Linked DNA regions of Homo sapiens. The protein of the gene in region 2 purifies or fractionates together with the protein of the main gene of each other region. This does not show direct contact. Each region holds a gene or a part of one and is shown on either strand. Other genes may lie near its edges.

Region 1 (9,073 bases), on a different chromosome or scaffold from region 2:
TGTGACAGGAACATCAAGATGTGAACGGCTGCATGATTTACCTTTCAACCTGTCATTGCTAAAGAGTGGAGCTGTTTTCACAGGAGACAGTGGTAAGGACGTTTTGCTTGGAGAAGGGAAATAATCACAAATTCCTCTAGCAAATTTCTCAGCGTCTTCTCTGGTAGAAAAAGCTTTAAATCGGGACCCTTTGATCATCTTGACAGCTTGCAATGCTTCCTTTTTATTTTCATAAACATAGATCCTTTCTGGGTAAGAAAAGTAACAAATGAAAATCAGAGAAGAGTGACTGGAGAGCTGTCACCTGGCCATGCCCTGGGCCTAACCATCAGCTTCCACATCTGCTACCCAGTCGCCTGGCTTAGTTCAGATCTTTAATCCTGAAGAAAAAGGGCCTAAGCTAGCCAAAATAGAACAATTAACAAGCTCGACAGTGTGCATATATGCATGTAACATGATATATATTATGTTCATATATGTAATTCTATATGCCAAGATTCTATCCTAAAAACTAAATTTCATATAAAGATCTAAATAAAAATTATTAAAAGGCAAATTAAAAAAAAAAACTATAATTATGTCAGCCAAGAACATAAGAGAATTTTAAACACAATTTTGAACAGGGAACGCCTTTTTATTTTTTACTTTATTTTTTTTTTTGGAGACGGAGTCTCGCTCTGTCGCTCAAGCTCAAGTGCAGTGGCACGATCTTGGCTCTTGCAACCTCTGCCTCCCAGGTTCAAGCGATTCTCCCGCCTCAGCCTCCCGAGTAGCTGGGATTATGGGCATCCGCCACCATGCCTAATTTTTTGTATTTTTAGTAGAGACGGGGTTTCATCATGTTGGCCAGGCTGGTCTCAAACTCCTGACCTCAGGTGATCTGTCCGCCTCGGCCTCCCAGAGTGCTGGGATTACAGGTGTCAGCCACGGCGCCCAGCCGGGAATGGCTGTTTTTTTTTGACATGGAGTCTCACTCAGCTGCCGAGGCTGGAGTGCAGTGGTGTGATCTTGGCTCACTGCGACCATCATCTCCCAGGTCCAAGCGATTCTCCCGTCTCAGCCTCCCGTGTAGCTGGGATTATAGGCACCGGCCACCATGCCTGGCTAATTGTTGTATTTTTAGTAGAGACGGGGTTTCACCATGTTGGCCAGGCTAGTCTTGAACTCCTGACCTTAGGTGACCTGCCCACCTCAGCCTCCCAAAGTGCTGGGATTACAGGCATGAGCCACTGTACCCGGCTGGGAATGCCTTTTTAAACATGCCAAGAAACCATTCAAAACAAGATAATCCTGATTATATAAAAATATTAAAGCTCTGTAGTGGAACTATCACAATTAAGTTTTGTATGAGACTATCGTAAATACATAAGATATACACTACTGGCCAGGAGACAAAAATTTATGAACAATGTAACAGACGAATGGTTACTGTCCACTACTGGATAAAAATAGCCATAGTTCGGGCACGGTGGCTCACGCCTGTAATCCCAGCACTTTGGGAGGCTGAGGCAGGTGGATCACCTGACGTTGAGAGTTTGAGACCAGCCTGACCAACGTGGAGAAACCCTGTCTCTACTAAAAATATAAAATTAGCCGGGCGTGGTGGCACACCCCTGTAGTACTAGCTACTCGGGAGGCTGCAGCAGGAAAATCACTGGAACCCAAAAGGCAGAGGTTGGAGTGAGCCAAGATCGCACCACTGCACTCCGGCCTGGCGACAGACCGGGACTCTGTCTCAAATAATAAGTAAATAAATAAATAAATAATAAAAATAAAAACTGCACCATGATCATTTCCCAGTGTTACTTTCTTTTTTTTGAGATGGAATCTAGCTCTGTCGCTCAGGCTGGAATGCAGTGGCACAATCTCAGCTCACTGCAACCTCAGCCTCCTAAGTAGCTGGGACTACAGGTGCCCACCACCACACCCCGCTAATTTTCTGTATTTTTAGTAAAGACGGGGCTTCACCGTGTTAGCCAGGATGGTCTCGATCTCCTGACCTCGTGATCTGCCTGCCTCGGCCTCCCAAAGTGCTGGGATTACAGGCGTGAGCCACCGCGCCCGGCCCCTACGTATTCTTTAAAAAGATCTTACAGAACAATATTCCATTCTATTCATAGTGTTTAACCAATTATGTACTCATAGGCGTCACCACAAATGGTATCACAGTAATAACAATACTCATAACAGTGTGCAATTTCTGGCATCCCAATTAATACTGAGTTCTCATTTCTTTTTTCCAATGCTAAATCTTCTTTAAAATTACAATTCTTGGGCTGGGCACAGTGGCTCACACCTGTAATCTCAGCACTTTGGGAGGCTCAGGTGGGAGGACTGCTTGAAGCCAGGAGTTCAAGACCAGACTAAGCAATAAAGCGAGACCCAGTCTCTTAAAAAAAAAAAAAAAAATTTAATTACCTAGGTGTGGCCAGGCGAGGTGGCTCACGCCTGTAATCCCAGCACTTCGGGAGGCTGAGCCTGGCAGATCACTTGAGCCCAGGAGTTGGGAGACCAGCCTGGGCAACATGGGGAAACATTGTCTCTACCAAGAATACAAAAAAACTGGCGCGTACTGGCACGTGCCCGTGATCCCAGCGATCCCAAGCTACTCCGGAGGCTGAGGTGGGAGGACTCCTTGAGCCTGGTAGGCAGACATTGCAGTGAGTTGTTGAGATTGCATCACTACACCCCAACCTGGGTGAGAGAGAGACCCCAGTCTCAAAAAAAAAAACCACCAAAAACAACCAATTAGCTAGGCGTGCTGGTGTGTGCCTGTAATCTTAGCACTTTGGGAGACCAAGGTGGGTGGATCGCTTGAGGGCAGTTCGAGAGAAGCGTGGGCAACGTGGCGAAACCCCGCCTCTATAAAAAATACAAAAATTGGCTGGGCGTGATGGCTCACACCTGTAATCCCAGAACTTTGGGAGGCCGAGGTGGGCAGATCACGACGTCAGGGGTTCGAGACCAGCTTGGCCAAAATCGCGAAACCTTGTCTCTACTAAAAATACAAAAAATAAAAAATTAGCTGGGTATGGTGGCGGGCGCCTGTAGTTCCCAGCTACTCAGGAGGCTGAGGTTACAGTGAGCTGAGATCGCACCACTGCACTCCAGCCCAGGTGACAGTGCGAGACTCTGTCTCAAAAAAACAAAACAAAACAAAACAAAAAAAAACCATAAAAATTAGCTGTGCGTGGTGGCGTATGCCTGTGGTCCCAGCTACTCAAGCGGCTGAGGTGGGAGGATCACCTGAGCCAGAAAGGTTGAGGCTGCAGTGAGCTGTGACTGCACCACTGCAATGCAGCCTAGGTGGCAGAGTAACACCCTGTTTCAGATGAATGAATAAATTAAAAAAATAAAATGGCCAGGCGCGGTGGCTCAAGCCTGTAATCTCAGCACTTTGGGAGGCCAAGGCAGGTGGATCATGAGGTCAGGAGTTCAAGACCAGCCTGGCCAAGATGGTGAAACCCCGTCTCTACTAAAAATACAAAAAATTAGCCAGGCGCGGTGGCAGGCGCCTGTAATCCCAGCTACTCAGGAGGCTGAGGCAGGAGAATCGCTTAAACTGGGAGGGGAGAGGTTGCAGTGAGCTGAGATCACGCCACTGCACTCTGGCCTGGGCAACAGAGTGAGACTTTGTCTCAAAAAATAAATAAATAAATAAAAACAAAATAAAACCACAAATCTTTGATGCTGAAAAGTATTTATACACTCATTGGCCATTTGCATTCATTAACATAAAAGATGTGCAGGTTACACTGCATTTTAAAAAGGCGGAGATGACTAATCAACAAAGTTCCTAACCAACAGCAGCAGCCAGTTAATATTAATATCTCAGTCCAGCATATCTCATAGAATCCAATTTACCTCACAAATTTTAACAGTTCTCATGTTAAATTCACAAATATTTCAGAAAAGTTCTACATAAAAATGTTAACAATGGTTAACTGGGGTGATGAGATGGAGGGGATTGGATTTTTTCCTTCTTAATCTGTAGTTTTCCATTTTCAGACGTCATCCCGCCCCTCCGCGTATGTGCTATCTGTGTGAGGAAATCCTACACACGGTCCCATTACCATTTCTCGCTGGGACGTCCTCATACACTGGACACACCCCATAGTACAGGGGCGGCTCCTTAGACGCAGTCGCTCCAGCTCTGTAGGTGTCGGTGTCACTAGGGGGCACCGAGCAGGTCTTGGATGTCACAGCTTCCTCCTCTGGAGGATTCAGGCCCACACTGTAACCAAAATCTCTGTCTTCAGAAAAACCAGCCTGATCAGTTGGGTTCCCTTCAGCTGGCTTCAAAATCCTTTGTGGGTCCTGGCTGAGAGCTGTGACACCTGCCTCATGGTGGTAGAAAGAAGACAGCCTTCCTCCTTGCTCCAGTAAAGCCTGAGCCAATTTTTTCTCAAAAATGAACCTTGTAGTTGATGTAATGGGTCCACATTTCAATCCGGCTTTGACGATTTCTTCTCTAAGGTCATCTGGATTCAGAAGTTTCAATCGAGCCAACAGAGCATCCATTGTCATTTCACCTAGGCCCAAGACAAAAAAATCAAAGAGTCACAAAATACTAACACCTGCTGAAGCTGGGTGATGGGTACTAGGGTTCATTATATAATGGCATCAGTTTCTGTTTCTTTCATTAAAAACTTTTTTTCTTGGCTGGACGCGGTGGCTCACGCCTGTAATCCCAGCATTTTGGGAGGCTGAGGCGGGCGGATCATCTGAGGTCAGGAGTTCGAGACCAGCCCGGCCAACATGGTGAAACCACGTCTCTACTGAAAATACAAAAAATTAGCCGGGTGTGGTGGCGGATGCCTGTAATCCCAGCTACTTGGGAGGCTGAGGCTGGAGAATCGCTTGAACCCAGGAGGCGGAGGCTGCAATTAGCCGAGATCACACCCCTGCACTCCAGCTTAGACAACAAGAGCGAAACTCCAGCTCAAAAAAAAAAAAAGAATTTTTCTTTTTTTTTTCGAGATGGTGTCTCCCTCTGTCGCACAGGCTGGAGTGCAGTGGTGCTATCGCAGCTCACTGCAACCTCTACCTCCTGAGTTCAAGTGATTCTCCAGCCTCAGCCTCCCAAGTAGCTGGGACTACAGGCGCCTGGAATCACACCTAGCTAATTTTTGTATTTTTAGGAGAGACGGGGTTTCACCATGTTGGCCAGGTTGGTCTTGCACTCCCGACCTCAGGTGATCCACCTGCCTTGGCCTCCCAAAGTGTTTGGATTACAGGCGTGAGCCTTTTTTCTTTTTGAGACGGAGTCTCGCTCTGTCACCAGGCAGGCTGGAGTGCAGTGGTGCGATCTCAGCTCACTGCAACCTCTGCCTCCTGGGTTCAAGCGGTTCTCCTGCCTCAAGCCTCCCGAGTAGCTGGGATTACAGGCGTGCACCACCACGCCCAGCTAATTTTGTACTTTTAGTAGAGACGGGGTTTCTCCATGTTGGTCAGGCTGGTCTTGAACTCCCAACCTCCCAAAGTGCTGGGATTACAGGCATAAGCCACCATGCCCAGCCCGTTGTATTCTTTGGGAGGCAGGCAGATCACCTGAGGTCGGGAGTTCGAGACCAGCCTGGCCAACATGGTGAAACCCTGTCTCTACTAAAAATACAAAAATTAGCCGGGCGTGGTGGTACATGCCTGTAACCCCAGCTACTCGGGAGGCTGAGGCAAGAGAATTGCTTGAACCCAGTAGGTGGAGGTTGCAGTGAGCCGAAATCACGCCACTGCACTCCAGCCTAGGGGACAAGAGCAAGACCTTGTTTCAAAAAAAAAAAATTACCCGAGCATAGTAGTGCACACCTACAGCCCCAGCTACTCAGGGGGCTGAGGCAGGAGGATCACTTGAGCCTGGGAGGTGGATGCCACCACGAGCTGAGATGGCAACCCTGCACTCCAGCCTGGGTGACAGAATCAGACCCTGTCTCAACAACAACAACAAAAAAAAAGATGGCGGGGGGGAGTAATACATCTGAATTTAAGTTTCTACAGGGTTCTGACTTTTAAAAACATGTTCGTGATTTACATACTCAAATAAGTAAAGCCGGGTGCGGTGGCTCACGCCTGTAATCGCAGCACTTTGGGAGACCGAGGTGGGTGGATCACGAGGTCAGCAGTTCGAGACCAGCCTGGCCAAGATGGTGAAACCCCATCTCTACTAAAAAAAAAATACAAAAATTAGACAGGCGCAGTGGCGGGCACCTGTAATCCCAGCTACTCGGGAACCTGAGGCAGGAGACTCGCTGGAACCCAGGAGGCAGAGGTCACAGTGAGCCGAGATCGCACCACTACACTCCAGCCTGGGCAACAGAGCGAGACTCCACCTCAATAAAACAACAACAACAAAAAAAACAAAAAAAAAAGAAATAAGTAAATAAACAAAAAGATGGGGGAGACACCCACATGGAATACTAGCCAGAAGAAATGCACCTAACTGTATTACAAGTGAGTAACACAGGGGAAGCTAACCTACGTAACTTTGGAAAACAGTGAGTGACTAGGTGCTCTAAGGAGAAAGACAAAAAGGACTGTGCACCATTACCGTGTGAACAGGCTCTAGGCAGTAGATGTTTTCACAATGGTATAGGTTAACACACCTAAAGCTATTTTCTGTGGACTCTAGGGCAAAGCAAATAATTGGAATACACGGTGGCTGATGAGAGCCAGGACTCTCAATGACAGAAAGGAAAGTGGGAGTGAGAACAGGGTTTCAGCAAACGATTCCTGTAAAGGGCGAGAGAGTAAGCATCTCAGACTCTATGAGCCAAAGGCCACGTGAGTGCTCAGAACAGCCACAGGCCGCGTGTGGCGGCTCACACCTGTCACCCCAGCGCTTGGGGAGGCCGAGGCGGGAAGATCACTTGAGCCCAGGAGTTCAAGACCAGCCTGGGTAACACAGCGACACCCTTTCTACAAAAACTTTAAAAATTATCTGATGGCTGGGCGCGGTGACTCATGCCTGTAATCCCAGCACTTTGGGAGGCCGAGGCAGGTGGATCATGAGGTCAGGAGATTGAGACTATCCTGGCAAACACGGTGAAACCCTGTCTCTACTAAAAATACTAAAAAATTAGCCGGCCATGGTGGCGGGCGCCTGTAGTCCCAGCTACTCAGGAGGCTGAGGCAGGAGAATGGTGTGAACCCAGGGGGCAGAACTTGCAGTGAGCAGAGATGGCGGCACTGCACTCCAGCCTGGGCGACAGAGCGAGACTCCGTCTCAAAAAAAAAAAATTAGCTGAGTGTGGTGACGTGCACCTGTGGTTCCAACTACTTGGGGGGCTGAGGAAGGAGGATAAATTAAGCCTAAGAGTTTGAGGATGCAGTGAGCCCTGTTTGTGCCACTGCACTCCAACCTGGGCAACAGAGCAAGACCCCGTCTCCAAAAAAAAAAAAAAAAAGAACAGCCACAGATATACATAAACAAAAGGGTATGGTTGTATTCCAATAAAACTTTACTAAGGAAAATAGGTGGGGGCCAGTTTGGACCACAGTTTACTGACTCTTGCATTAGAATAAAGCCAGGGAGCCGGACACGGTGGCTCATGCTGGTAATCCCAGCACTTTGGGAGGCCAAGGTGCATGGATCATTTGAGGTCAGGTGTTTGAGACCAGCCTGGCCAACATGATGAAACCAGGTGTCTACTAAAAACACAAAAATTAGCCAGGCATGGTGGCATGCACCTGTCATCCCAGCTACTCAGCAGGCTAGGTGGGAGAATCGCTTGAACTGGGCAGGCAGAGGTTGCAGTGAGTCTCCAGCCTGGACAACAGAGTGAGACTCCACCTAAAAAAAAAAGAATAAACCCGCGGACGTCGCATTGAAATTGGAAGTATCAGTATGATCACAAGGTCTTTGACAGATCGATGGGTAAAGATGTGAGAAACAGCTAGGTCTGAACACTGGGTTATAATGTTCCATTAACAATTTTTTTTTTTTTGAGATGGAGTCTTGCTCTGTCGCCCAGGCTGGAGTGCAGTGGCACGATCTCTGCTCACCGCAACCTCCACCTCCTGGGTTCAAGCAATTCTGCTGCCTCAGCCTCCCGAGTAGCTGGGATTACAGGTACCTGCCACCACGCCCCGCTATTTTTTTGTATTTTTAGTGGAGACTGCCTCACCATGTTGGCCAGGCTGATCTTGAACTCCTGACCTTGTGATCCACCTGCCTCGGCCTCCCAAAGTGCTGGGATTACAGGCATGAGCCACCGCAACCGGCCAAGTACACAACTTTTGAGACTGGCTTTTCCTATTCAGCATAATGCCCTTGAGATCCACCCACGTGGCAGAGTGGATCGCTGCGGAGTGGCACCCCGGGGCACCCACGTGGCAGAGTGGATCACGCAGTGTGGCACCCCGGGGCACCCACGTGGCAGAGAGGATCGCTGCGGAGTGGCACCCCGGGGCACCCACGTGGCAGAGTGGATCGCTGCGGAGTGGCACCCCGGGGCACCCACGTGGCAGAGAGGATCGCTGCGGAGTGGCACCCCGGGGCACCCACGTGGCAGAGTGGATCACGCAGAGTGGCACCCCGGGGCACCCACGTGGCAGAGAGGATCGCTGCGGAGTGGCACCCCGGGGCACCCACGTGGCAGAGTGGATCATGCAGAGTGGCACCCCGGGGCACCCACGTGGCAGAGAGGATCGCTGCGGAGTGGCACCCCGGGGTATCAGTGTGCAAGTTTAACCATTTGAGTTATTTCAGTTTCTGGTAATTACAAATAAAGTTGCTATGAACATTAAATATGGGTTTTTGTGTGAAAATAGTTTTCATTTGTCTAATAAAAGCTCAGGAATGCAGGGCAGGTTTAACTTCCTAAAAACCTGCCAGGCTGATTCCCAGAGTAGCTGCACCACTTACCGTCCCCACCTGCAATGCACGAGGCCCAGTTTCTCTAAATCTCTGCTGACTATATATATGTATACTATATGTGCTATATGATATACACGTATCATATGCCATGATATACGTATATTATACATCATATATAAAAACATATTTTTATATAAAATAAATCAGTATTTTTTTATTTCAGCCATTCTCAAAACACCACCCTCACCCGCCGCCACCTTG
Region 2 (9,073 bases):
ATAAGAAGTAAGATTTAGCCCAGAGAGATTATGAAGCATGAGAAGGGCTGCGGGTGAAAAACAGAATGCTGGGGAAGAACAATATTTGAAAGATGGGCAGAGGACAGATTGCCAGTGGGATCAAAGAGCAACTTCTATAGCAGTAAAAGGGGAACCAAGTAAGAGTGAGAGATTGAAAGAGGGAGCAAGGGATCCTTTCTTTTGGTAAGGTGGAGATGTGAGCACTTGTGCTTAATGCTTCTGATTTCAAATCCAGATCTAAGGAATCAGTGTTACACAGAAATAGAGAAGTATAAAAGAGGGTATGAACATGATGGAATTCATGGGAATCCTGCCAGAGAGAGGGAAGATGGGACGAGACTGAAGGAAGTTCCCAGGGCTGTCCTCCTATAACCCATCTGGAGATCTTATGAAGATTTAAGTAAAATGGATAATTTTCTGGTAAAATACAAGTTAACAAATCTGACTCAAGCCAATTTAGGAAAAAAGGAATAGAATTTAATAATGGAAAAAAATTTTCAAATTTTGTTTTAAGATAGGTGACAGGTTTAGATATTATTGGCATTTTTTTAAACATTCAAAGAGAGTATTATTTGTGGGTTCCATAAAATGTTCCATACATAAAAATACAAAAACAAAATAAAAACATTCATGGACATGTTCCCAATTCATTTTCTGAAACTTGGCATAGCCTTAAAAATAAAATCTGACCAAGAACACAAAAGTGACAGTTATCGAACAATCTCCCTTATGTATGTGGATGTAAAAATAATAAAGCATTGGCAATCAAAACCCGGGAGTTTATTAAAAGAAAATCCCCATGGCCAAGCAGGACTTGTTCCAGGACTGTAATAAGAGTTTAATATTAGGATATCTATTAATATAATCCATCAGATAAAGAGACCAAAGGACAAAAAAAAAAAAAAAAAAAAAGAAAAGAAAAATCACATGATTACTTCCATACTTGCCAAAAAGTCATCTGAAACAATTTCACATCTATTCCTGATGGAAATTCTTCATAAGCTAGGAACACGACCTATCTTTAAAATGAGAAAGACTGTCTTAGTTTAATTGTGAACATGAGTGGGATGTCTGGAATTTGTGTAGAAGGGGATCTTAAGGAATGACTTAGTTGGAAATGGATTTGTCTTTAAGTTGAATTTGCAGTGCACCACATGATTTTTCTCAGGCTGTATAAGTACTTTTGGTGGCTTCTAGAGTGGCTAGTGGTTTACAGGAGAGCTAAGGCCACCTGTCAGCACCAATACTGTACAATACTACATGTATAGTAAAACACTAGTGGCATTTAAAGTTAAGTCATGTGCCAGCCTGGTATCTCTCTAATATTTACCATACTTTTGGAAGTTCTCCAGCAATAAACCCCTGTCCCTACCCACTGCACTCCCTTCCCCCCCAAATGAAAGAGAATTATAGTTACAGAGGCAAAATTATTATTTCACATATTATGATAATCTGAATTTGCTTGCTATATGCCAGGCTCTGTGTTAAGCACTTTACATACACTAATTAACTTGAATGGCAATGCTGCAGAGGACATTATTATGCTCACTTTATGGAAAGCACAGTGAATCTCTGGGAAGTGAGGGACAGGAAAGCTTGTTAAGTGGCATCCTAAACTGGCACAATGGGATTTGAACATGGCTGTGTCTGTGCCCATGCTCTGAACTAGTAAGCAACATTGTATTTCTTTACTAATGGATAAGAAATGGAATATAAATGATTTTAGATTATAAAATTAATATAAAAATGAATTTCTTATGTGCCAGCTATCACCAGTTAAAAAATATAAAAATGGTAATTCATAATAGTAAGTCAGAGTATAAAATACTGTGTGCTATGTTCTTAATGTTTGTGTTCCCCTGAAATTCATTTGTTGAAAATTAATCCACCAGTATGACGGTATTAAAAGGCGAGGGCTTTGGGAGGTGATTAGGACATGAGGGCAGAGCCTTCATGATTCGGATTAGTGCCCTTATAAAGAGGCCTCAGAGCACTACCTTGCCCCTTCCACCATGAGACAACACAGCTACAGGATTCCATCTATAAACCAGGAAACAGGCCCTCTGCTGATGCCTTGATCTTGGATTTTCCAGCTTCTACAACTGTGACAGATACATTTCTGTTGTTTATAAACCCAGTTTATGACATTTTGTTTTAGCAGCCTGAATGGACCAAGACAGTTGGAAAATAGCTAACAAAGAATTTTGGCAGGAAATATTTGAGGACAATTTCAAGCATTTATGAGAGGCATAAAAGACAGGCGTTTCAATAACTACAGATATACTATGTTTTTGGATAAGAAATCTCATAATTGTAAAGATTTCACTGAAATAATATTAGGAGTTTCATGAAATTGCTTTCAAAATATTGTTTTTATAATTTGGTAGAAAACGAAAAGTTGAGTGCAGATAAATATAAAACTTCCAAGAGGGTACTTGTATTATTAATTATCAAACTCTATTATTAAGCTACAAAAATTGAAGCATAATAGTCATGCAAGAGTACAGTACAATAATAAGTGCAAAAATAAAGTTACAAAACATTAGAATATGACAGATAACTCTAAAAGAGAATCTAATACATATTACCATTTATTACATAAAAAACGTAAAATTTCAAATCAGTGAAAAAAGAATAAATTATTCAACAAATGGTTTTAGAAATACTGATTCATCATTTGGGAAAAAATAGATTTCTTCATACTACATAATGATATAAATTCCAGATGGATGAAAATGATAAAAGCAAAAAGTACATATTGAGGATCTAGAGAAATGATACAGGTTATTTTATTTTTCTGTTCTCAGGGTTGGGAAGTCCTTTCTAAATATAATTGAAAAGAAGAAAACATAGCTAAATAAATTTGAGACATTTAAAACCATAAAAAAGGAAACTTCTACATTGAAAATGTAATAGAATTGAAAAAAGACAAATTTCAATCTGGGAAAATGTTAGCAATGTATCTGAAAGGTTGAATTTAATATTTATAAATAATTTTTTAAAACCAATAGGAAATGAAAAAACAGTATTAAAATGGACAAGGACATGAACAGATAATTCACATACCAAAAAAGACAAGTAATAAAAAGGCATGAAAAATAACCCTTTCGATGAATAAATGTAAGTAAAATGATAATAAAATTCAATACTTCTGCATCATTCAAATTTGCTGGTTAGAAAGCTATAATACTACAATCCAACAACAAAAACCAAACAATCTAATTTTAAAATGGACGAAGGCCTTGACTAGATATTTCTCCAAAGAAGATATACAAATAACCTATAAGCACATAAAAACATGATCTACATCACTAAACATGAGATACCATCTTGTACCCATCAGGATCAACAAAACCCAGAAAATAACAAGTATTGGTGAGGATGCAGAGAAACTGGAATCCTTGTGCATTACTCGTCAGAATCCAAAACTGTGCGACCACTGTGGAAAATAGGATGGCAATTTCTCAAAAAATTAAACATAGAATCACCAGATGATCCAGCAATTGCACTTCTGGTTATATACCCATAAGAAATGAAAGAGGGGACTTCAACAAGTATTTGCACACCCACTTCATAGCAGCATTATTCAGAGTAGCTAAAAGGTAGAAACAGCCCAAGTATTCACTGATGCATTAATGGATAAACAAAATGTAGTATATATATACAATGGGATATTATTCAGCTTAAAAAAGAAGGGAATTCTGATACATGCCACAACATAGATGAGCTGTGAAGACATTATGCTAACTGAAATAATTCAATCACAAAAGGACAAATATTATATGATTTCTCTTATATGGTAAACCCGGAATAGTCAAATTCATATAGATAAAAAGGAAAATGGTAGTTGCCAGAGACTGGGGAAAGAAGGGGATGGGGAATTAGTAATTAATGTTGAATGGGTACAGAGTTACAGTTGGAGATGATAAAGATGTTCTGGAGATGAGTGGTGGTTATGGCTGCACAACAGTGTGAATGTACTTAATGCCGTAGAACTGTACACTTAAAAATGGTTAAAATGGTAAACTTTACATTACGCATATTTTACCACAGTCAAGAAAAACCTAGGTTGGTTTTGATGTCTACGTGGAGTAGAATCTAAAAAAGAAGGAAAAAAATGAACTAGAAACAAAATTCTTACCAACTCAGGTTGATGATAAAGAAATCTTAGTTTAGTCTTAAGGTGGACAAAAATAAATAAGTAAATATAAAATATTTATCTTGGAATTCTTATTCATGGATCTGCCCTCACATAGATTTGAGGCTTGAATTTAGACAGCAAAAGTTGGTTTGGTAAACCCCAAACTGAAAAAGTAACAAAATTTGGTTCCTCTCAATGATGTCTTAGGGGACTTGACAAAAGCAAATACTCTGGAGTGAGAACATGCCCATTCTCTCCACATGGATTTATAGATTCAATGCAGTTCCATTCAGAATCCCAGCAGGTGTTTTTGTGCAAATTGATCAGGTGATTCCAAAGTGCACGTGGAAATGCAAGGAATCAAAAATAACTCAAATCTGTTTTGAAAAAGAAGAGCAAAGCTCCAGGGCTTACGCTACCAGATATCAAGACCTTTTAAATAAAATCATTACATTTAAGACAGTGCTGTACTGGTAGAAGGTTAGACAAAGAGGCCAATGGGCAGAATAGAAACTTGCACATATACAGTCAAATTATTTATGGATAGCAAAAGTGGCATAGTCAAAATGAATCTTGACCCTTACCTCACACCATACCAAAAAAGCAATTCCAAATGAATTGTAAATCCACCTGTGAAAGGCAAATAATAACAATTCTAGAAAATAATAATAGAATATCTAAATGACTTTGGAATAGGCAAAGATTTCATAAGCAGTACACAAAAAGCACAACCATAGAAGAGAAAAATGTAAGAATTAGACTACATTAAATTAGGAATTTCAGTGAAGAAGAAAAAAGGTAAGCCTTTTTTTTTTCAGTGTAGAAGAGAATATCTGCAATACATTTTTTCTCTCAACGTTCTCATATCCAGAATATGAGAAGAACCCCTACAAATTAATAAGAAGCAAATAACCCAATAGAAAAATGGCAAAAGACTTGAACAACTACATAAGAAGACATCAAATGCCATAAACATGTAAAAACTGCTAAGCTTATTAGTCATTGGGGAAATACAAGTTAAAACCACATTGCAATACCATTAATTGCTTATTAGATGGCCAAAATGAGAAAGATAATATGAAACGATGGTAGCACAAAGAGTGGATTGAAGTCTTATACATTGCTGGCAGGAATATGAAGTGGTACAGCCATTTTGAAAAGTATGTTAAAGCTGAACATGTGTATACCCTATAAGCCAGAAATGCCACTTCTAGGTATATACCCAATAGAAGAGCTTCATATGTGCCACAAAGAATATATATAAGGAATGTTCATAGCAGTATGGCTTATAGCAGCCCAAAACAAGAAACAATCCAAATGTCCATCATCAGTAGAGTAGGTAAATAAACTGTGTTCCATTCATACAATGGAATGTTATATGGTAATAAAAATGAAAACTATTGCTACCTACAATGGCACAGATAATTTCAACATAATGTTGAGTGAAAGAAGTCAGGCATAAAATATTGTATGATTCAATTTATCAAAAGTTCAGAAATGAGCAAATAATTTATGTTGTTAGAGTGAGGATACTATTTACCTTTAGGAGGTTAGTGATTAGAAAGGGGTATGAGAGAGATTCTGGGGTGTCAGTAATATTCTTTTTGTGATTTATGAGGTGGTCACACAAAGGTCAAGAGTTTATCTTTTTGAAAATTCATCAAGCTATAAACTTTTAATATGTGCAGTTTTGGGGATGATGTTGTACTTTGATGAAAAGTTTACTAAAAAAAAGACTATAATACAACTTTTTCTGAGGTCACTGTGGTTATGAGAATAAAATACCTTAGAAGTGTTTATACTCAGACCTAGTTAATTCTATTTGTCATGAAACTGATCAGAAACATATACAAATATTTATGCATTGGAATGTATATTTTAATATTTTTTAAATGTATGAAATCTGGGAAAGAACCTAAATATGAAATCAGAAGGGACTGCTGAAATTGATGTGGTAGAACAATGAAATGGAATATTAGGCTATCTTCAATATTTGTGTGGTTGGTTACTTAAAAGTATAGGAAGACTACGTATAACATTAGGTGGAAGAAAAAGCAAAACTTGGGTTTATGTATACACTATTCTAATTCTGTTTTCAGTGGGCATCTGTATAGAAAATACTGATGCTTGAGATCTCTCTCAGAGATTTCAACTTAGTGGTTCTAGCCTATGGCCTGGGTTCCCTTGGTGATTTCAATGCAAAGCCAAGGTTTCGTTTTCTTTCATCTTCTTCCCTGAATAGAAGTTAAATTCCTTATTAATAACAGCTTCACATATATGTATGAGATATGCTGGGCACAAAGTAGGCACTCAATAAATAATTGCTGATAGATGGACACAGAAATCTTTCTGGGAGATTCAGGGCACGTCTTCATGGTTAGAGATTTCTTTTTCATAGGTTGGATTGTGGTCCAGGTTCAGAAATAATCCTCCAGGAATGAGGGTCACTTTGGTCCGTGGCTCCACTAGGGCACTGGGTGGCTTATAGCACCATTTCAAAATCTAAATCACATGCTGGTGAGTCTATGTCTTATCTTCTTGGGGATGCAAAATAGCTGAAGTGAAGTCTCATTGTAATCAATTAGCATAACTAAAAGCCCAAAGAGGTAAACTCAGTTACATTATGGTAATGTCAGTTGTGGTTATTGAAATTATTCCAATGATGACATTTGGGGTTGGCTGGTGGTAGCAGTCATCTGATTTGAAACAAATAGAGAAAATAAATAATGGTTTATGTTTGTGTATGCTTATAACAAACATATTAGGTGTATTACATATTCTTAGGCCTTACAAAAAGCACACCAATTGGGTAGTAGCAGCCCCATCAGCATCCCCATGAGGAAGCTGAGGCTTTGAGGTATTAGGCATGTTCACAGAGGTGTGTCAATCTCACCTTTGATATTGATGATATTGAGGTGTGATTCCTCAATATCATCAAAATGTGACCTTGTGTCATATAAGTGATGACAAAGAGATTTATAGCAAACCTTCACATTAGACACTAGCAAGCTTTCTATGTTGTCAATAAGTCAGTAGGAGAAAAGATATTCATTGAAATAAGGGATAATGGGACATGAAATTTTTGTTTATATTCAATGGTCTCTGTCAAGCCCTTAAAAAATAAATTAGGCTGTCATCTTTCTGAAATAGTTAGTGGGAAGATAGAAGGGTATGATACATCAGTGGCTTTCAAACTTATTCAACTCAACTAATTTCATAAAGAAGAAAACCCACAATTACATTAAACTATATTATGACTTGTGCTTACAGAAATTTGCTCTGAGGAAACTGTACTGGGATACCAAAGTCCAAGACGGGGTTTGTAGGTAAGGGTATTGCCAGTAACTATCTGTGTGATCTCAGGCAAGTCACTGCCCCTTTTTGGGCCTCAATTTCCTCAAGAAAGAGAAAAAGGACATTAAGATAACCTTTGAAGCTATAGACCCTTTGTGAACCTGAGATAAGCTATAAATTCTTTCCCTAGATGATGCATATATGCATGTACATGGACAACTTTGAATGCTGGTTCGGGTTGTTCACAGATTTTCCAAAGACTATTTGTGGGCTTCTAAAGAATATAGTGGCCCTTAGCTTAAAACACCTGAAATATGTGCTAATTGGGATTATAGTCATGTTTATGAAAATAAAATGAAAATAACCCTTATCCTTGAGAGATGTAACCTGATAGCATATTTACGGGTGAAGTTATTTCATGTCTGGAATTTGCTTTAAAATGATCCAGTATGTGTAGGGTGGTGGTGGTGGTGGTAATACATAAAACAATACTGTCCATGAATTAATTGTGAAGCCACATGATTAGGTCCATGACAGTTCTTTATACTGTTTTCTCTACTTTTGTGTATATTAAAATTTTCCATAATAAATTTTCACAGTGAAAATGATCTAACCTTTCTTGGCTTCCACTTCCCCATCCATAAAATAGAAATATTAACAGAATCTTCTATTGTGAAGATTAAGGTTGTATCTGACTTACAGTAAACATTCAGTAGATGCTCACTATTGTTCTCGCTCAACTATGTAAATATATAAACAGATTTAAAAAGACATGAGATATAGATCAAAGTTTTATTAGTAGATGCTTCTGGATGGTAAACCAAGAGCTAATTTATTTTTCTTTTCATCATTTATGTCTGGACTGTTCAAATATCTACAAAGAGTATTTGTTACTCTTATAATAAGACAAAAAAACCTAACTCTTTAAAAAAAGTAACTTTAAGTCTTCCTTGAGAGAGTTTAATGCCAAGGGGGCCTGAACCATGTTTGTCCCACAAGATATTTTACAAACAAGACCACTTCATGGAAGAGTAAGATGGAATGCATATTACTGTCTTGTTCACATTTTCCTCACCAAGCTCTCATGCTCAGGGTCAAAGATCCTTGTAAACGCCAGTAAGCTTTAACATGTGGCCTTCCTAGAATAGAATGAATTGAGCCTTCCTCTCCTCCAGTGTCATGCCATCCTACTCCCTTACCTTACCACACGTTCCTCCCTACTAGCAGTTTAGCCTTTTTTAAGGGGCATGGATCACTTTGAGAATATCATGAATGCTATGCCAAGAAAAATTCACATGTAGGCATACAATATTGCATTCAATTTCCTAGGGTTCATGGGCTGCCATAGTTCATCTCCACTAATTAAGCTTACTGAGGCCATGACATCAAATTTAGGAATGTAGAAACACACATCCGGTGTATAGACCACTTTGAGAAAAACTAATTTGTACAAAACCATAAGCCAGATAAATTGGTGGATAATTATGGGCATTACATATGTGGCTTTTGCTCTGCCAAATAATTTCCATTAGGACATCTATAAATAGCAAATCCATATAATGCATTTGAACCATGCCACTGTTTGCCCAAATGCTAAGCCCTTTCCAGAACACGCCT

The links.
Region 1: the proteins of STAC (region 2) and ANKLE2 purify together in Homo sapiens (affinity purification with mass spectrometry; 3 studies listed by BioGRID and IntAct, with this or other methods). This does not show direct contact.

Annotation. Positions count from the first base shown.
Region 1 is NC_000012.12:132,750,602-132,759,674, forward strand, and holds part of ANKLE2 (ankyrin repeat and LEM domain-containing protein 2), read right to left. Parts: intron 4,533-9,073; coding exon 4,074-4,532; intron 249-4,073; coding exon 42-248; intron 1-41. UniProt on the Homo sapiens protein: Involved in mitotic nuclear envelope reassembly by promoting dephosphorylation of BAF/BANF1 during mitotic exit.
Region 2 is NC_000003.12:36,382,312-36,391,384, reverse strand, and holds part of STAC (SH3 and cysteine-rich domain-containing protein), read right to left. Parts: intron 1-9,073. UniProt on the Homo sapiens protein: Promotes expression of the ion channel CACNA1H at the cell membrane, and thereby contributes to the regulation of channel activity.